Regions from separate parts of the Homo sapiens genome. Here region 1 is linked to region 2. A link means that fine-mapping ties the variant in region 2 to the plasma level of a protein whose gene starts in the linked region. Region 2 holds a variant in brackets. A gene starts in the other region. All regions are shown on their reverse strands.

Region 1 (12,521 bases), not on the chromosome of region 2:
TCTCTTCTCTCTCTTTTTTTTTTTTTTTGAGATGGTGTCTTGCTCTGTCGCCCAGGCTGGAATGCAGTGGTGTAATATTGGCTCACTGCAACCTCTGCCTCCTGGACTCAAGCAATTCTCCTGCCTCAGCCTCCTGAAAAGCTGGGACCATAGGCATGTGCCACCACACTGGCTAATTATTTTGTACTTTTAGTAGAGACAGGGTTTCACCATGTTGGCCAGGCTGGTCTCAAACTCCTGACCTCAAGCCATCTGCCTATCTTGGCTTCCTGAAGTGCTGGGATTACAGGCGTGAGCCACTGCACCCAGCCTTCTCTTCTCTTTATTACAGCTGTAAGAGGCCTCACCTTTGGGCCGGGCGCGGTTAGGAAGTCCTGATCATGAGGTCAGGGGCTCGAGGCCAGCCTGACCAACATGGTGAAACCCCATCTCTACTAAAAATACAAAAAAAATTAGCCGGGCGTGGTGATGCACATCTGTAATCCCAGCTACTCAGGAGGCTGAGGCAGGAGGATTGCTTGAATTCAGGAGGGGGAGGTTGCAGCGAGCTGAGATTGCGCCACTGCACTCCAGCCTGGGCAACAGAGGGAGACTCCGTCTCAAAAAAAAAAAAAAAAAAAGGTCTCACCTTCAAAGACGGTTTCCTTTGCCAACACCAAGGAGTAGGCTCCAGCCTGGGTTGCTGAGAGGACATGGGAGGACTCCTGGGACTTCTTCAGCTGTTACTTGGTTCCCAGGGAGAAAAAAAGCGAGGACAGAAGTGAGCAGAATCCCTTGAGACTAGAACCAGGAAGCTAAGGGTGTGGGACAGTGAGGGTTGGGGGCTGTGCTGATGGAAACTTCAGGGCCTGATAGGATTCCTGTCATGAACAACTCTGCAAAAGCCACACTGAAGTTACCCCCTATCTTCCTTCTCTTTAGGAAGTAACTTCCTCTTCTCTCCACCTTTAGGAACCCCACCTACAGACCGTCTCCTCCAGGAAACCTAGCAGTGCTGCAGGAGGAAGGAACTCTTTACTTCTGGTCTCAAGGCACTTCAGGCTTGAACCACCATGAAGGCAGAAATTCCATCCAGTTACCCTGGAAGTGGGAAACCGACAACCTGCATGGCATTTTTTGAAGCTAGACATGTAAACATCATTTAAAAGTTCTGTTTTCTTGGCTCACGCCTGTAACCCCAGCACTTTGGGAGGTCAAGGCAGGCAGATCATGAGGTCAGGAGATTGAGACCATCCTGGCTAACACGGTGAAACCCTGTCTCTACTAAAAATTCAAAAAATTAGCCGGGTGTGGTGGTGGGCGCCTGTAGAACAGCTACTCGGGAGGCTGAGGCAGGAGAATGGCGTGAACCTGGGAGACAGAGCTTGCAGTGAGCCGAGATCGCACCACTGCACTCCAGCCTGGGCGACAGAGTGAGACTCCGTCTCAAAAAAAAAAAAAAAAACTTCTGTTTTCTCTCTTTTCTTTAAAAACCTGAAGCTCTTAGCTGGGTGTGGTGGCACATGCCTGTAATCCCAGCTACTCGGGAGACTGAGGCAGGAGAATTGCCTGAACCCAGGAGGTGGAGGTTGCAGTGAGCCAAGATCACGCCATTGTGCTCCAGCCTGGGCAACAGAGCGAGATTCCATCTTAAAAAAAAAAAAAAGTCTGAAGCTCTGGCAAACCTGGGCCTACATCTCTGCCTGCCATCAATGGCTTCTCCCTTCAGGCCAAACTCACACTCTTCAAACTGTTATTAAAATACCACAGGTTTGGTCTAGGTCATGCTGCTCACCACACAGAAAGCCAATCACTGAGACAATTATTGCCAAGGAAGAAGGCTTTAATCGGGTGATGCAGGTGAGAAGACGGGAGATCGGTCTCAAATCCATCTCCCTGATGGACTAAAATTAGGAGTTTATATAGCAGGGAAGAAATGTAATTGTGTGTGGGAAAACAAATGCAAGGGGTAAGGAAGCAAATCATGATGAATGAGGGCCCTTGAGTCTCATTGTCTGGATGGGATGATCTGGTGGGTTTCAGTTCTTTGATACTTTTTGAGAGGACTGGGGATCCTTTCCTGAGAGGGGAACTCAGATAAAACAAATGTAAGTTTCAAGCTTTAGGATCAGAAGGGTTGATTTCTATGTTTATCCAAAAAAGCTGTCTATGGGACTATTGGGTTGGTTTCAAAACTTCCCCAATATTGAGTCAGAGTGTGGTCATTGTTAATGTTGAAATACAGAACTAATCTTTTGTTTCCGAAAAAAAGTATGACAGGCCGGGCATGGTAGCTCATGGCTGTAATCCTACCACTTTGAGAGGCCGAGGCAGGTGGATCACCTGAAGTCACCTGAAGTTCAAGACCAGCCTGGCCAACGTGGTGAAACCCCGTCTACACTAAAAATACAAAAATTAGCTGGGTGTGGTGACACACGCCTGTAATCCCAGCTACCTGGGAGGCTGAGGCAGGAGAACTGCTTGAACCCAGGAGGGGTTGCAGTGAGCTGAGACTGTGCCACTGCACTCCACCTGGGCGACAGAGCCAGACTTCATCTCAAAAAAAAAAAAAAGTATGAAAATAAAAGAGAGGCCAAAGGGCCATGTGCTTCAGGGAAGATGAGAAATGGCATAATTGTGTATGTATGTGTGTGTGTGTGTGTGTGTGTGTGTGTGTGTGTGTGTGTGTGTGTAATTGAAGAAATATTCTTACGTATTTATTATTCAAAGTCAATCTGTGCTGAAAAATACAACTCCAGGTGTCATTATTTCTGAGCATAGTGACCAGGGGGTCATTACAGGGTCAGACTCCCCAGTATGACTCTCAGCTCTACCGCTTGCAAGCTATTGACCTCAGACAAGACTGTGACAATATCCAGATGCCTCTGTAGTTTAAACTTCTCTGGACTGCTCAAATATAGCCCGACTGCTATCTTAGCAAGAAAACACCCTGTACACGTGGCTTTCAAGGCTGTACTAAAGAAAACATGAAATCCCATACCCCAAATTATTCTTTCTGGGATGAGAATGTGCCCAAAGTCAATACTAGCCCAAGCCAAAAGCCAAATCTGGCTCCCATGGATAGGTTTCTGGCCCTGACTTTGGCAGATGGTGCTGGCCCATGTAACCTACTCTACCCCAAAGGCCACAGCAGGGGGAAGGCTCTGGAGGTCAGAACTTCTGTGAGAGTCACAGGCTGACCTTGGGGATGCTCACAGCCTGGGAGAGCTCAGCTTAGGTCAAGTGAGGACCATCAGACCCTGTCCAGATCAGAGTAGCTCACTGAATTCTCCAGCCACAGCCTTCAGCAGTAGGTGCCAGCAGGATTTTCAAAACCAGGACCAGGGAATTTGGAGACAAAGGTGACTTTCTCCTATAGGATGCTGAGGGAGGAGAAAAGGAATAAAGCAGTTGGGCAGACAGCTATGGCTAGTCCTTGGTAAAATTCTTTTGAAAAATCAAAGCTACAGGCACAGATAGAGCAGCCTGGGGAAAAATCAAGCTGCAGCTGCACAGATAAGGGAGCAAGGCCCAGGATAGAGGCCTTTGTTCTTTGCATAATCAGCAGGCTCCCAGGAAAATGTTTCCTCCCCTTTTCAGGCATGCAAATGGTGAGCTCTGTGGGAACTTGCACAGGGAGGGGGATGGGGAGACTTACCTAAAACATACCTGCAACTACAGAGACAAGAGAAGCTACATATGCTTTCCTAAAGACATGCCCACAGCTGCACAGTTAACAGTAGTTACACAGATAGGGGAAGTTACACAAATAGCTACAGAGATGAGGGAAGTTTCTTTCTTTCTTTTTCTTTTTTTTTTTTGAGACGGAGTCTCGCTCTGTCACCCAGGCTGGAGTGCAGTGATGCAATCTCGGCTCACCGCAACCCTCCGCCTCCAGGGTTCAAGCAATTCTCCTGCCTCAGCCTCCTGAGTAGCTGGAATTACAGGCACGTGCCACCGTGCCTGGCTAATTTTTGTATTTTTAGTAGAGATGGAGTTTCACCATGTTGGTCAGGCTGGTCTCGAACTCCTGACCTGACCTTGTGATCCACCCGCCTCGGCCTCCCAAAGTGCTGGGATTACAGGCGGGAGCCACAGCGTCCAGCCAGACACTCCATTATTTTTTGAGCCACTAATAAAGGAAAAGAAAAAATGTTTTCATTGAGACATAATATCCAATAAAAAATACAATATATATATATATTTTGAGATGGAGTCTTACTCTGTCACCCAGGCTGGAGTGCAGTGGCACAATCTTGGCTGACTGCAACCTCCGCCTCCTGGGTTCAAGTGATTCTCCTGCCTGAACCTCCTGAGTAGCTGGGACTACAGGCACACACCACCACATCTGGCTAATTTTTTATTTTTAGTGGAGACGAGGTTTTGCCATATTGGCCAGGCTGGTCTCGAACTCCTGATCTCAGGTGATCTGCCCACTTTGGCCTCCCAAAGTGCTGGGATTACAGGTGTGAGCCACTGCACTTGGCAAAATACACAAGTCTTAAATGTGCAGCTTGATGAAATTTTACATACTTATATACCTGCGTGACCACCACTGAGATCAAGATACAAAACCTTTCCAACACCTCACATGTTTTCCTCATTTCCCCCCTCAGTCAATAATTTCCCACCCTCCCAGAGTTAACCGCTGTTGTGTTTTATCACCATTTATTATAATTTTGCTTGGGTCTGAATGTCATAGGGCTGGATTCATTCCATCCTCACTCTTCTGCAGCATGCTTCTTTCATTCAACCTTATGTCTGTGCAATTCATTCATGTTGCAGTGTGTAGCAGTAGTTTATTCTCTTGTCATTGCTGTATAGTTGTCAATTATATAAACATACTTTTGTTTGTTTGTTTGAGATAGGGTCTCACTCTGTCACCCATGCTGGAGTGCAGTGGTGCAATCTTGGTTCACTGCAACCTCTGCCTCCTGGATTCAAGTGATCCTCCCACCTCAGCCTCTCGAGAAGCTGGGACTACAGGCTTGCGCCACCATGTCTAGCTAATTTTTGTAATTTTTGAAGAGACAGGGTTTTGTCATGTTGCTCAGGCTGGTCTGGAACTCCTGAGCTCAAGTGATCCACTCGTCTCGGCCTTCCAAAGTGCCAGGATTACAGGTGTGAGCCACTGTGCCTGGCCCAATTATATCACTATAATGTTATTATCCATTTTGCTGTTGATGGATATTTGGATTGTTTCCAGTTTTCTTTCTTTTTTAAAATTTTTTATTTTTTTAAGACAAGGTCTCATGTGCATAAGCTGGAATGCAGTAGTGTGATCATGGCTCACTACAGCTTTAACCTCCTGGGATCAAGCGATCCTCCCCACCTCAGCCTCTGGAGTCACTGGGACCACTGATGTGCACCACTGTGTCTGGCTATTTTTAAATTTTTTTGTAGAGATTGGGTCTCTGTATGTTACCCAGGCTGGTCTCAAACTCCTGGGCTCAAGACAGTCTCCCACCTCGGCTTCCCAAAGTGGTGGGATTACAGGCATGAGCCACGGCACCAACTTTCTCTATCTTTTTGTTTTATTCCAACCCTCAAAGGATTGGATGATTCTGGAAACACCCTCACAGGCACACCTAGAAATAATATTTAACCAGATATCTGGGCATTCCTGGCCCAGTCAAGTTGACACACAAAATTAACAATCACAGATCCTCTCTAGCTCAGGGCTCAATACACCAGCCCGAGAGAACCCCCATCCATCTTCTCCTCTCCCTGAATGACTGAGGAGACCGTGCCTCTCCAGGCAACCTCTGCCTTAGGAAATCCTACAGATGATTCACAGGAAACACATGGCTGTGCTCTCTGGGGCAGGGGCAATGGGCTGGGTAGGGGTTTCAAAATCAACCCTGATTGACAGAGCCACGGGTGCTTGCAGTTTTTCCCTGCACCCCCCACCCTCTCCCCTGGACAAGGTGGGAACAGGGCCCTTGAAGGGGAGTACACTGCAGGAGGAAAAAGAAGAGAAGGGAGAGGGTTTGAGCACCCCTCTCTGTCCTCATGTGGTCTCTGGAACGAGCATGCACACTCTCCCCTTTCTCCTCCCTGCACAGAGTCCCTGTGTTCCGGGCCCACACCCTCACTTAGGAGGCTCTGCCTCCCCCAGGGTTTCCCAAATCCTCCTCCCAGAACATGCCACATATTTCTGAAGGTCCTTTTGCCAACAAGCATTGTCCTGGGAATATCAGGCTGGTTCCTTACCGTAAAATTACCCACATAGTGAAACTTTTTTTTTTTTGAGATGGAGTCTCACTCTGTTACCAGGCTGGAGTGTTACCAGGCTGGAGTGCAGTGGCACGATCTCAGCTAACTGCAACCTCCGCCTCCTGGGTCCCAGTTCAAGTAAATCTCCTGCCTCAGCCTCCCAAGTATCTAGGATCATAGGTGCGTGCCACCATGCCCAGCTAATTTTTGTATTTTTAGTAGAGATGGGGCTTCACCATGTTGGCCAGGCTGGTCTTGAACTCCTGACCTCATGATCTGCCCACCTTGGCCTCCCAAAATGCTGGGATTACAGGCGTGAGCCACTGCATCCGGCTGTGAAACTTTTTTTTTTTTTTTTGAGAGAGTCTCGCTCAGTCACCCAGGCTGGAGTGCAGTGGCGCGATCTCGGCTCACCGCAAGCTCTGCCTCCTGGGTTCACACCATTCTCCTGCCTCAGCCTCCCAAGTAGCTGTGATTACAGGTGCCCGCTATGACGCCCGGCTAAATTTTTTTTTTTTTTGTATTTTTAGTAGAGATGGGGTTTTGCTGTGCTAGGCAGGATAGTCTCCATCTCCTGACCTTGTGATCTGCCCACCTCGGCCTCCCAAAGTGCTGGGATTACAGGCGTGAGCCACCGCACCTGGCCTTTTTTTTTTTTTTTTTTAATGGGGACTGGGTTTCGCCATGTTGCCCAGGCTGGCCTCGAATTCCTAGGCTCAAGTGATCTGCCTGCCTCAGCCTCCCAAAGTGCTGGGATTATAGGCGTGAGCCACCACCACCATGGCTCACTGCAGCCTCAATCTCCTGGGCCGAAGCTATCCTCCTCCCTGTCTCCTGAGTAGCTGGGACTACAGGTGTGCATCACCACATTCAGCTAATTAAATTTTTTTTTTTTGGTAGAGACAGAGTCTCACTATGTTGCCACTCCTGGGCTCAAGAAGGTGTGAATCACTACACCTGGCCGTTTTTTTTTTTTTGTTTAGTTTTGTTTTTGTTTTTTGAGACGGCAACTTGCTTTGTCGCCCAGGCTGGAGTGCAGTAGCGCGATCACAGCTCATTGCATTTTGGCGCTGGGTTTTCTTGATATCTCCCCCACTGGACCTGACCGGGGCATGGGCTGCCCTGTGAGTGCCTCAGCCCTCGTCCATCACTGCCCATGGGGCTGATACACCTGTGTGCACACACTCAGGTGAAGACAGCTGCTGCCCGTAGGTGAGGTAAGACACTGAGCACCTGTGTGGGAGGAGATCTTCCACTCCCACTCTGTCCACACCAGACCATGAAGAGCTCTCCATAGCATGGGTGCTGACCAGGCCCAGCCTGGGTGACAGAGTGAGACCCTGACTCAAAGAAAAAGACATAATGAGGTGTGATTTTAATTTCTTGGATGTCCCAGTATATATAAATGTTGGGAGTATGGATTGCTTCATTTCATTTTAAATAGCATTTTTTTTTTAAGATGGAGTCTCACTCTGTCACCCAGGTTGGAGTGCAGTGGTGCGATCTCTGCTCACTGCAGTCTCTGCCTCCCGTGTTACAAGTGATTCTCCTGCCTCAGCCTCCCGGGTAGGTGGGATTACAGGCATGTGCCACCATGCCTGAATAACTTTTGTATTTTTAGTAGAGATAGGGTTTCACCATATTGGCCAAGCTGGTTTGAACTCCTGACCTCCAGTGATCCGCCCACCTTGGCCTCCCAAAATGCTGGGATTACAGGCGTGAGCCACCGTGCCTGGCCACCCTTTATCTTCTTTTCTTTTTGAGACAGGATCTTGCTCTGTCGCTCAGCCTGGAGTGTGGTGATGCAGTCATAGCTCACTGCACTCTTGAATCCCTGTGCTCAAGCCATCCTCCCACCTCAGCCTCTACTACAGGCATGCACCACTACACCCAGCTATTTTTTTATTTTTTGTAGCAACGGGGTCTCACCATGATACCCAGGCTGGTCTTAAACCCCTGGCCTTGTGATCCTCCCACCTTGGCCTCTCAAAATGCTGGAATTACAGGTGTGAGCCACCATACCTGGCCCCCTTCATCTTTTTTCCACTGCCTTGTGCCAACCCAGTTTGTGCACTGGGGCCTTGCGATCCTCTCAAAGCTGATTCAGCCTGCATTCCTTTCCCAGATGGACACGTGTGTGATAAACAGCTCTGCAGTGGGGTGAGGGAAGGCAGGGGCAGCAGGGTCCTGTATGTCCTGCCATCTCCACAAAAGGGCAGTCCTTACCCCAGCCTTGTGCTGATGAGACCAGGCATAGACAGTCCTGACGACACAGGGCGGAAGGGAGCAGCCATTAGTGCTAATGAGGCAGGCGGCCTGAAAGCTTTGTACTCTGCAGTGGCTCGCCCACCCAGGGAACAGTTCGTTCTGTTTCCTTGGCTTCCAGGAACCCTAGGCAGAAAGGGGTTTGGGGACAGGAGCAGGAGTGGGCGGTCTTGGAGAAACCTGGAGGGAGAAAGGGAGGGGAGGACCAGAAATGTAGTCAGGAGGGCCTAGGATTGGTTAGGTGGGCTTTTCCTTCCCCTTTCCCTCCAAAGAAACCCAGGTTCTGGTTCTGCACCTACCCCTGCCCAACAGTGGCCATTGGCCCATCACCCGCTCCAATGTCCTTGACCCGAATTCTTGGAAGCACAGGAAACAACATGCCACATAGGGGTTGAGTAAGCATCTCTGGGGCCACAAATTAAATTAAGCTTTCAGGGCCGCCTGCCTTGTTATTGCTAATGGTTCTAGCCCTGCTCAGCTCCTAGGTCCCTGTCCTGTGGAAATTTGTGGACCCTGGGCACCCTCTCTTGCTCCCAAATTTTAATCGGCTCCTGGAAACCTCACCCCAAATTGGAGATAGGCACTCCTCTTGTAGAACAAAAGGCTCAGGTTCAGGGAGTGAGGGCCTGAACTGTGCCCCCACCCTCCAGGAAGGGTCCTTCACGGCCTGGCTGCAGGGATCAGTCACGTGTGGCCCTTCATTAGGCCCTGCCATATAAGCCAAGGGCACGGGGTGGCCGGGAACTCTCTAGGCAAGAATCCCGGAGGCAGAGGTGAGTCCTCAGGTTGGGCAGGGACTCCTCCTCTCTGTGGGGTCTCTATCTGGGCACCTAGAGGGGACTCCAAGGATAAGGAGGGACTAAGTGGTACATCTTCCTGCTGAGCCAGGCCATGCTGACCGCAGCGGTGCTGAGCTGTGCCCTGCTGCTGGCACTGCCTGCCACGCGAGGAGCCCAGATGGGCTTGGCCCCCATGGAGGGCATCAGAAGGCCTGACCAGGCCCTGCTCCCAGAGCTCCCAGGTCAGTGTGAGCAAGGGTGGGACTGGGCGGGGCCTGAATACCCTCTGGCCACAAATAGTCTCCCCTGGCATAAACCCTCTTTCTCCCTTCCCAAACCCTCCCCTGGGAGGTGGGTGCTTTGTGCATGGGGGTTCCTGCCCTCACATCCTCTGCCCCAGGCCTGGGCCTGCGGGCCCCACTGAAGAAGACAACTGCAGAACAGGCAGAAGAGGATCTGTTGCAGGAGGCTCAGGCCTTGGCAGAGGTAACTGCTCAGGGAAAAGGGTAAGGTGGTGGCCCTTGGGAGGGGGCATTGGGTATTAGCTCCTCTCCCCAGCTCCAAACTCCCTCACCAGCGACGACACTACCGACCACCCCTTCCCATGCTCCACTGCCATCCTGCACAGGTTGGGACAGGTAAGATCCCTGGATCTGTCTTTAGAGGCCTGTGCTGGTTCCCCACCCCTGCAGGTACTAGACCTGCAGGACCGCGAGCCCCGCTCCTCACGTCGCTGCGTAAGGCTGCATGAGTCCTGCCTGGGACAGCAGGTGCCTTGCTGTGACCCATGTGCCACGTGCTACTGCCGCTTCTTCAATGCCTTCTGCTACTGCCGCAAGCTGGGTACTGCCATGAATCCCTGCAGCCGCACCTAGCTGGCCAACGTCAGGGTCGGGGCTAGGGTAGGGGCAAGGAAACTCGAATAAAGGATGGGACCAACCCCAAGGCTGTGGTTATTTCAAACGTGGCCGTCAAAGGAGGGAGGGTTCATGGAGGGGGTGGGAGTGTCACCAAGCCAAGAAACCACACATACTCTTATCCCAGGGCCTGGGCTACCCTATCATAGGAGGCACATACACGGGCGCTTTTAGGGGTCCTGGTGCCCCTGGGAAAAATAGAGAAGAGCCGCACTCCAGCTTTCGAAAATCTTGTACAGCAAGTGCGGGGAACGCAGGACGCAGCGTGGCACAGGGGCTATCACTCCTGGCTAACAAATAAGCCTTAGGCTCCAGGGCTTGCTGCTACTTCCACGCAAAGCCTGCCCCTCATCCTGTTACCAGAGGGAAGGCCAGGAGTGTGCGTTGTTCAGGTCCTTAGCGTTTCGAACAAAGAATTGAACAAAACCCAGAAAGTAACAAACGAATGACACACAGGAAGGAAGCAGACAGCTGGGATTTGTTAAAGCGAGAAAGCACTACGCAGGGTGGGAGTGGGCCTGAGCAAGAGGCTGAAGGGGCTCAGTTACAAAGTTTTCCGGGTTTTAAGTACTCCTTTTGCGGTCCCTGTCCGTTACCCCTTATCTGGATGAAGGGTTTGGTCCATGGCTAATTAATCCATTTATGCCTGAGGTTGCAATCTTTTTGAATTTTTGCAATCAGACCTTGGCCATGACCTTGAGCAGTAGGATATAAATAACTCCCATATGCTTAGCGTTCCAATAATGGAACACAAGGCATAAATGGGGCTAAGGTGAATTGGCGCCCTATGCAGATGAAGGGATGGCCCGTGCTTGGCCCGCAGCCAATCCAAGGCACTCTCCCTTTCAACTGAGACGTGGTGGAAGGGGGAGGGTTGTGGGGACAGTGGCCTTTGATCCTTTGTTACTTGGACATGGGGAGATGGGGTTTTTCTTTTTGGTTTAGCTTTAGTAAGCTCGCCTTAGTTGGCCTCCGGTTCCCTGCCCCCAGACCTTGGTGTTTTCCCTTGATTCAGCTTCAGAATTCAGCACGTATTGGCCTCAAGTTCCCCGCCTCCAGACCCTATTCTCCTACCTCAATCGGACCTCAGTTTCCCTCTGGGGAGGAGGCTGGCCCAGCAGTCTGGAAACTTTCCAAGCTTGAGAAGGGCTCGCTCCCTTCTTTACCCCGCCCGCCCTGCAGCGTCAAGTGCAGCAAACCGGGGAAAGCTAGAGAAGGCCCAGTCAAATCCCTGCGGCCACAGGCGCCACCAAGCGGCCGGCCTCAAACTTCCTCTTTTTAGCGCGCAGGCGCCGCAGGGCCAGCCCACGCCTGCACCGCGCTTCCGCGCAGCCACCCGGAAGCCGGGCACCGCTCAGAGCCACGCCCCCTTATGGTCACGTGAGGCGCTTGCGCGTCACCTGACGCACTTGACAGCCCGCTGAGGACGCAGCGTCAGCTGACCTGGGGAGTCGCGATTCGTGCCGGCCGGTCCTGGTTCTCCGGTCCCGCCGCTCCCGCAGCAGCCATGTCGTTCTTCCCGGAGCTTTACTTTAACGTGGACAATGGCTACTTGGAGGGACTGGTGCGCGGCCTGAAGGCCGGGGTGCTCAGCCAGGCCGACTACCTCAACCTGGTGCAGTGCGAGACGCTAGAGGGTGAGCCGGGGCCGCGAAAGGCGGGGATAGAGGCTGTCCGGGGCCTGAGGGTTCAGAGGTGTAGGCCGGGAAGCCGGAAGGGGGGGTCTTGAAGGGCCTGAGAGGCCTCTCTGGGAATCCTGGGGCTGATAGCGGACGCGCAGGAGCGGGATCTACCTCTAGCTGTGGCTCGGCGCGGGCCCAAACTCAAACAAGGCTTTAAGAACCGCAGTTGTTCGCCTCTGCTTGGGCCACCTTTTCTCTCGCTGTGCTCACCCTGCAGTTTGGGAGGAGGGGGTGTTTCGGGGGTAGTTGGTCGGTGCGAGGTGTGGCCATACAAACCTCTTTACCCTGACGTAGCCCGAGAGCTGTCGCGTAGCAACCCTTAGGGAAGCTAAGCGGAAAAGTCCCCCACCTCTTCCCCCTCCCCCCGCCAAGACACTAAGGTCTTTGGGATCATCGTGTCTTCGCGTTGGCCTGCGGGGTGAGCCTTCCTGGGGAATTGCTGAGCCAGTTTATCGAGGGTTTTCTCCCAACTCTGAACTGCTGGCTGGGCAGTATCTCCTGAAGGCAATGTTTGGGAGAACAAGGGTGGCCCTTGCAGGTCTGGAAGTTCATATACAAGTATTTGGCCAATTAATCCCACCCCCTCAGCGAGGGGGATGCCTGTTGGGACAGGGTTTCTGAGCACAAGAGTAATGAGAAACCGAGTTCCCCTTTCTTCTCAGCACACAGCTCCAGAGTGGCGT
Region 2 (8,000 bases):
CAGATGGTGGTCTTGTTCGCCTGGAAGTAGATTTCCTTAACTCCGTTTTCCAGAAATCCCTCACTTTAAGGAGGTTATCATCATGGCTACCAACTGCGAGAACTGTGGGCATCGGACCAATGAGGTGGGTGGGCGCCATTATTTGGGAAGAAGACTAGCTTAAGGGTAACCCCCTTTTAACTATCATTCTTCCTAAGTACTTCAGTACTCGGGGGCAGGGGGTGTAGAGTAGCTTGGGTCTTTTTCTTAGGTCTAGTGCAGGGTGATGAGCCCTTGAAGGAATGGGAATTAGCCTAGAGAAGAAAAGTTAGAGATTCTATAACTTGTTTAAGACATATTAAAGGTTGATGATATGGAAGAGAGAAGTCTTTTGACCCACTCCTCAGAGGTGTGGAAGTTCAGGGAGGCAGACTTTGACTTCACAATGAAGAACTCAATAGAGCTGTCTGAAAATAGAATGAGCTGCCTTAGAGAATTATAAATTCCCTTCCCCTGAGTGTATCTGAGTATAAGCTAATTAAATTCTTTAACCAGAATATTATAAAGGAGACCCACACATTGGATGCAGTGGATGAAAGGACTGCAATAAATGCTTAAAAGTCTCTTTCAACCCCAAAAGTCTTTTTTTTTTTTTTTTTTTTAAGGTAAATTCAGAGTTTATTGGCAATTTGGGATAAGTTTTGGCACGTTACCAGGGTTGGGCACTGTTCCTGGCCAGCTCTTGGTGTTTTTGGTTTGGGCGACTGCTGTTTAGAAGGCTCTTTCTTTGGTAGCTATTAATGGCCCTAACTGATTGGATGTCCAAGCCTACACTCCAGGTCTCCTGGGTACCAAGTGAGGCTCAGGTCTTCTCTCTGTTGCTCCTGACTGTTATCGATGCAGGTGAAATCTGGAGGAGCAGTAGAACCCTTGGGCACCAGGATCACCCTCCACATCACAGATGCCTCAGATATGACCAGAGACCTCCTCAAGGTAACAGTCTGCTTGGGAAAGTCACTGTTGTCCTCATAAGTTAGATAAACTGTCTCTATCTAGGGGAAGTTGTCTTTTAGAAATAATGTTCAGGGACATGAGGTATCTCCTACTTCCCTGGCTTTGAGGACCCCTGAGCAGAGGGAGTTAATCTAAGATTGGAATTGCAGGTTTAGAAGGTGACCCTGTTAGCTCTTTCTGATGACCTGGTAGCTTTTTGGCCTCCAGTGTCTATCTGGGTCCTCTTCTCTGTCTGTCCCCTAGTGACAGGATACCTGACAGCTCGAAGCTATGACTGAGTTTCCCTTTATTAAGTTGGATCTATTCCCGTGGTTCAGATGGACAGGAGTGAGTCTCAAGCTTTAACAAGGGAGTCAGAGAAAACTGAGACAGCTGCCCTTGTCCGCAGTCTATCACTGCTGGTATTAATTGGGCAGGAGGCCTCTGGTTGGCTTTCTTTGCTTCTGACTTAAAGCTTAAACTGACCTCTCATTTCACAGTCTGAGACTTGCAGTGTGGAAATCCCAGAGCTAGAATTTGAACTGGGAATGGCAGTCCTCGGGGGCAAGTTCACCACACTGGAAGGGCTGCTGAAAGACATCCGGGAACTGGTGAGTCACTTGAGTAGTGTGTAAACCACCTTTGAGCAATTTGGCTGTGTGAAGAGGGACTGGAAGACTTCAGACATCCTAATTTTCGGTGCTGGTAACTGTGGGTTTCTTTGCCTTAAAGCTGGTTTAAGAGACTTAAATATTACTTTGGATGGTGAAGACAAGTTTATGGGAAATGTTGAATGGAAATTCCAGGCCTAACTTTGGGACTTTATAGTTATTTTGTGGTCTTGGACAAGTCATTTATTTTACTGTAAAGTTAGGGGATGAGGGTCCTTCTAGCACCTAAAACTTCCCAACATAAAAAACATACATGTATGGGTTGACTTAGCCCAAATGTTTATCTCCTTGATGAATTATTTCACTTGATTCTCTGTTGGGCATTTTGTATTTGTAAATTGTACTTTTTCTTTGCATTTCTTCTCCAAATTAGTATCAGAGATCATATTCTAAGAACATGTTTCGATTTTGTTTTACATTGCCAGTTTTGTTATCTTGGCACATTATCCCATAGACTCCTAGGAGTGACTGCCTTGGTCAGAAAGGTGGTGTGGGCTAAATGGAAACCAAGTTTCCCTGACAGGGCACCCACTGTCACCCCCTGCCTAGTTTATGGTCAGGCCTAACAAATATAAAGCCAGTATTCACATAGTTTGGATTATCATTTATTGCAGGTGACCAAAAATCCTTTCACACTGGGCGACAGTTCCAATCCTGGACAGACGGAGAGACTACAGGAGTTTAGCCAGAAGATGGACCAGGTAAGAGGTCACTGGCCAGTCAGTACTTAGAATCCTGGGGCTCCAGTGAACAGGAGGCTGCATGCTCATGTCTTGCCACTTTTTGAACATCTAACCATCATGTTGGGGATTCTTCTTCTGGTTTTCTTTTCTTTTTTTTTTTTTTGGAGACAGAGTCTCGTTCTGTTGCCCAGGCTGGAGTGCAGTGGCGTGATCTCGGCTCACTGCAACCTCTGCCTCCCGGGTTCATGCGATTCTGCTGCCTCAGCCTCCCGAGTAGCTGGGATTACAGGCGCACACCACCACGCCTGGCTAATTTTTTGTATTTTTAGTAGAGACAGGGTTTCACTATGTTGGCCAGACTGGTCTCGAACTCCTGACCTCGTGATCTGCCTGCCTGGGCTTCCCAAAGTGCTGGGATTACAGGCGTGAGCCACCGCACCTGGCCCTCTTCTGGTTTTCTATATTCCACGTCTTCTTTCTTGTTTTTCTCCCTTATTTTGTTAGAGCATCTTCTCCAGTAGCTTCCTGGGAAAAAGTGCATGGGAAATAAAATTTCTGGGACCTTCCACATCTGAACATGTCTTTATTCTGTTATCACACTAGAGTGATTATTGGCTGGGAATACGATTCTAGGATAGAAATAATTTTTTATCAGAATTTCGAAGACTGCACTATGGTCTTCCAGTTTGGTAAAGACATTGTACTATAGTCTTCCACTTTGGCTATTGAGAAGTCTGAAGCCATTTGATTCCTGGTCTTTTATATGTGACCTAGTCTTGTGATCTCTTCGTTTCCTTTGATGTGAAATTTCAGGGTGTGCCTTGGTGTGGGTCAGTTTTCATCCACTGGGCTAAGCACTTGGTAGATGTATTTTTTCAGTCTGGAAAACTCATGTGGTTCAGTTCTAGGAAGCTTTCATGAATTATTCTATTGAAGATTATCTTTTTTCTGATTTTTTTTTTCTGTTCTTTCTGAAAACTCCTGGGTTTTAGATATTAGACTTACTTGTCTGGTCTTCTATAATTTACTCTTTTTTTGGTCCTATTTTTGGTTTCTTGGTTTTTTTGTTCTTCTTTGGGAGATTCCCTCAACTTTATTTTCCAACCCTTCAATTGAGGTTTTCATTTCCACTAAAACTTTTATTTTCCAAGGAGCTTTTTAAAAAATAGCATCCTGTCTTAAGGATGTAGTATTTTTTCTTCTTGAGGATTATTATTTTTTAAATTTTTTCAGCATGCAGTTTATATAGCACTTATTGATACTGATGTTGGATCTTTTTTGACATTTTATTCTCCTTGCATCCTTTTTTTCCCCATTTGATTTCCCATCTTTCAGTGTTAAGGGCTTTGCTCAGATGTCTGATAATCATTGATTGTCTTCTTACAAGTAGCGGGCTAAAGACCTGAGTAGGGGGTGAGCCTTGTTGACATGGGGCTTATTACAGGGGAATTTAACTTAGCTGTTTTGCTGAGGTGGCCTCCAATGCCAGAATTGTTAGGTCTTTCCTCTTGGGCTAGTCAGACAAAGAGGCTATGCCTGCCAGACAAGAACCAACCCAATTTATATTACAGAATCCTCCAAAGTTTTAAGAATTGGTGAAATTAGGTAGCTCTGAAAGTAGAGGGGAAAGGATCTAAAATAAGGACTGTTAGAAAAGCCAACATCAGCAAGCTGTGGACCAGGGGGTGCTGGCCCAGTTGAAGGTAGAGGGAAAGGACTCAAGAACAAGGAGGTTAAATGACTGTGGCTGCTCCATTTCCTGGCCTGAGGGTAAAGGCTTGGCTGGCAGTGTTCTGAGAGCTGTGGGAAGGGGGCTGGGGTGTGTATGTATTCTGTTTCCCATAAGCTTACATTCATTTAACCTACTTGTTCTTGATTCCTTTCCCTCTACCTTCAACTGGGCCAGCACCCCCTAGTCCACAGCTTGCTGATGTTGGCTTTTCTAACAGTCCTTATTTTAGAACCTTTCCCCTCTACTTTCAGAGCTACCTAATTTCACCAATTCTTAAAACTTTTGGGGATTCTGTAATATAAATTGGGTTGGTTCTTGTCTGGCAGGCATAGCCTCTTTTTTTAAAAATTTTTCTTTACTTTCATTTATTTCATTTCTTTTTTTATTTATATATATATTTATTATACTTAAGTTCTAGGGTACATGTGCACAACGTGCAGGTTTGTTACATATGTATACATGTGCCATGTTGGTGTGCTGTACCCATTAACTAGTCATTTACATTAGGTATATCTCCTAATGCTATCCCTCCCCCCTCCCCCGACATAGCCTCTTTTTACCAGGGGTTATGTAAAATTTACTTGCTGTGTTCTCTCTCTCCTTTAGATCATCGAAGGTAACATGAAGGCCCACTTTATTATGGATGATCCAGCAGGAAACAGTTACTTGCAGGTATAGTAGACCTTCCCTGATGTTTCATAGAGATACATTTTCTGATCTTCCTTGAATATGTATCATTTCCCTAGAAACTGAAAGACTTGATTCTAAATGGACTGCTTTTTACCAAGGAGGCAGAAGTTAGAAGATACATAAGGGAGAAAAGAGGGGGGTGTGGGAGGGGATTTTTTTTTTAAGTGTATGTAAAGAAGGAAAAAAAAAGGATACTCTGAGGCCCCTTTTTTTTCTGTAGTCAAGCTCTTGTCCCAGTTCTGGAGTTTTCATTTTGCAAATCTGATTATGGATTGAGGAGAAATGGTACCTTGTCCGGAGGCCAAGATAGGAAACTGATAGGCTTTAAGTTGACTGAGGAGAGAGTCTGGTGATTGATGTACCTTTACCATTTATTGGATACTTACCATGGGTCAGGCAAAACTCTTCTAAGTTCTTTCCAAGATTAAGACCATTTGTCATACTTTTCATAAGAAGGTGCAGATATAACAAAATAGGTGGATTGTTCCCTGATTCTGGGGCTGGGGTCTTCTACCCCTGGCCCATGTGGGCTCTGTTGCTACCCACTAGTTCAGTCTAGCCATGGGAAATTGGAGGCCAATAAAAAGAAAAAAACCCAAAACTCATTCTGTTCTTGGGAAGGTGGGAATTGGAAGCTGCCTGCAGAGAGGGGGAGTGGCACAGCGGCACTGATTGTCTCTCCTTGACCTTGCAGAATGTGTATGCGCCTGAAGATGATCCTGAGATGAAGGTGGAGCGTTACAAGCGCACCTTTGACCAAAATGAGGAGCTAGGGCTCAATGACATGAAGACAGAGGGCTATGAGGCAGGCCTGGCTCCGCAACGGTAGCAGTGGGTGGCTCAAGGGCCAGCCTCCAGCGCTGCTCTTTCTGTAGGTTATTTATTAGTATTGGATGAAGGCGAAGGCTGGGAGTGTCTTTCCCACCAGCCCTTGCCCATGGTGGGGAGGACATCTGGTCTGAGTCAGAGATCTGTGCACACTTTCTAAACAGCTTGTGATGCAAGTGTGAGCCTATTGTGTTACTTGACCTTATTTTGGAAGTTTTGAATTGGCCTAGGAGGAAACCCAGAAATGAACCAGGGGTATGTCATCACTTTTTTCATATCAAGTCCTCACCCTCCTTCCACATAATGCTCTATCCTCTAAGGTTGGAACTCTGAAGTTGGAGAAGGTGGAATAAAGTTACACCTGGAGTTTGTTGTTGGTTTTGAGTATATAAAATACTGACTTTGAACAGGAAAGGAGTCTCCTGAGGGGAGACCGAGTCCAGCACAAGTGAAGGAGTTACCATTGAAATGATGACTTTCAAACAGCACTGGCCTCTGTATTGACCCTATCCTTGTTTGATATCATGCTGTTAGAATTCAGCCTCCTAAAGAAAATTTTCCCGTGTATCTACTGTAATTTGGGGATTGCAGCTGGCATTTAATTCATTCCTTCAGCAGATGCTTGCTTATCTACTTTATGCCAAGCACACCACAGAACAGAGGACAAAATAAATCTCTTTCATGGAACTTGAAGTCTAGTGGGGAAAAATGACAATAAACAGAT[C/G]AGGAAAACAGTACATCAGATGGTGATTAGTGTCATGGAGGAATGTAAAGCAGGGAATGGGGCTGGGTTGTGCAAGGAAATGGGGAGTAGGGAAGATCTTCTGAACAAGAAGGTGATAATTTGACATTTGGGCAAAGCTGAGGAGGAGGTCAGGGAGTGAGCTGTGTGGGTATCTGGGGGAAGAGATTTCCTGGCAGAGGGAACTGCAAATGCTAGAGCTGTGAGGTTAGAGCCAGTGGGGGTACCTGATCAGTTAGCCCTACTCTCAGTTAGAAATGTTGAAACACATTCATCCAGAGAGAAAGGAGGCTCTCTGCAGTTCTTCTGAAAGTTAAGGACCAGTGAACACTCTGCTGCTTGGGCCCTGGACTTCCCAGCCAGTGTTCTTTGCACTGTAGTCTCCTGCCTCTCATAAACAAAAGGTGACTCCTGTGGTGCAGACTGCAGGGTATTTGTTCAATAAAGACCAGTTCATTGATTAAGATGTTATCACAAACCTTATTGCTTTGTGTTGCAAACTTTTTTTTTTTTTTTTTTTGGTAGAGACAGAGTCTCGCGCTGTTGCCCAGGCTGGAGTGCAGTGGTGTGATCTTGGCTTATTGCAACCTTTGCCTCCCGGGTTTAAGCAATTCTGCCTCAGCCTCCCGAGTAGCGGGGACTACAGGCGCACGCCGCCACACCCAGCTAATTTCTTTTGTATTTTAGTAGAGACGGGGTTTCACCGTGTTGCCCAGGCTGGTCTCGAACTCCTGAGCTCAGGCAATCCGCCAGCCTTGGCCTCCCAAAGTGCTAGGATTACAGGCGTGAGCTACCGCGTCCGGCTGTGTTGCAAACTTAACTCTGAAGAATGAGTTAGAGATGATTTAGCAATCAGACATCTACTCTCGTTGCTCTGTTAAACTACTCTCAAAGGTCACAAGTGATTTTCCACTTGGAAAGTGTTATCTATTTCTGTCACATTTGATAGTGGACCATCTCTTCTTAACCCTTCTTTTGGCTCTCGAGATACTGTACCCTTGGTTTTCCCTTCACTTTGAATATTTCTTATTTGGACACTTTGCCTCCTCCCCTCTTACTAAATTTGTTTCTGAGAGTTCTGCTTTCAGACATCTCTCCATATCAGATTCTTTGGCATCTTACTATCATGTGGGACTAACTTCCATACCTGTATCTCTAATTTCTGTAAGTGAGGGCGAGAGTAAGGTGTTTGGAGACTCAGGTTAGCAAATGACTCATTCAAACTATAAAGCTTCAGTACTTTGGGCAAACTTCTCACAGGCAACTATTCTACCCTAAGAGATTATCTCTAGGTATGTTTCCAGCTGACTTGGGAATCTAAGTTTACCAGACAACCCTCTGATCTATCATTTGGTCTCTTAAGTAGACTTCCCCATAGTGTAGGTGTGCTCTGTTAAGATAAACTGCAGTATCAGGTTCATTTTCCATTGTGAAGGAAAAAAAATGGCACTCTGGCTTATTACTGAATCTCTTGTGAGTTTGGTTGGTGTGAGGCAATCTCCCAGAATCCACCCAGTTCCTAGGAAATGATGACCTGAGTTTCTGAACTTGAAGACTGAGGACCAGGTGCCAGACTGGGATAACCCAGCTAAGGTACTTCCTGCCCTTTGATGACAAGGCATTCTTCAGTTTCATACCCTTCTCTTGAATTATCTTTCAGCTCCTTTCTCATTTCATAAAGT

Which allele goes with the higher level. Alleles are on the strand shown, and positions count from the first base shown. The strength of an association depends on the size of the effect and on how common the allele is.
For the plasma level of the protein whose gene starts at base 9,203 in region 1, allele C in region 2 goes with a higher level than allele G (moderate association).

What was found. A credible set is the group of variants that fine-mapping cannot tell apart. PIP is the posterior inclusion probability: the model's chance that the variant is causal. The UK Biobank Pharma Proteomics Project read protein levels with antibody pairs (Olink). The fine-mapping took linkage between variants from a reference panel, not from the people measured, so its PIPs are less certain.
Region 1: AGRP starts here. The variant in region 2 is the best candidate, but not a certain one, in a credible set for the plasma level of the AGRP protein (UK Biobank, PIP 0.83).

The regions. Positions count from the first base shown.
Region 1 is chr16:67,480,229-67,492,749 of GRCh38, reverse strand. It overlaps AGRP (agouti related neuropeptide), which reads left to right and starts at 9,203. Exons shown (of 4, transcript NM_001138.2): 1 at 9,203-9,233; 2 at 9,349-9,481; 3 at 9,640-9,725; 4 at 9,932-10,179. The coding sequence starts at 9,352. The coding sequence ends at 10,114. It overlaps ATP6V0D1 (ATPase H+ transporting V0 subunit d1), which reads left to right and starts at 11,593. Exons shown (of 8, transcript NM_004691.5): 1 at 11,593-11,793. The coding sequence starts at 11,664. It overlaps ATP6V0D1-DT (ATP6V0D1 divergent transcript), which reads right to left and starts at 11,356. Exons shown (of 4, transcript NR_184227.1): 1 at 11,231-11,356; 2 at 8,422-8,640; 3 at 629-725. RefSeq lists enhancers at 3,951-4,030, 11,593-11,642, 11,803-12,042 and a silencer at 11,313-11,482.
Region 2 is chr11:116,776,502-116,784,501 of GRCh38, reverse strand. It overlaps ZPR1 (ZPR1 zinc finger), which reads left to right. Exons shown (of 14, transcript NM_003904.5): 9 at 54-124; 10 at 883-972; 11 at 1,473-1,583; 12 at 2,258-2,344; 13 at 4,665-4,730; 14 at 5,443-8,000. The coding sequence ends at 5,577. Among named protein-coding and RNA genes, the nearest start is that of BUD13-DT, 7.0 kb to the right of the region's middle. The variant C/G (reference allele first, on the strand shown) is at 6,301.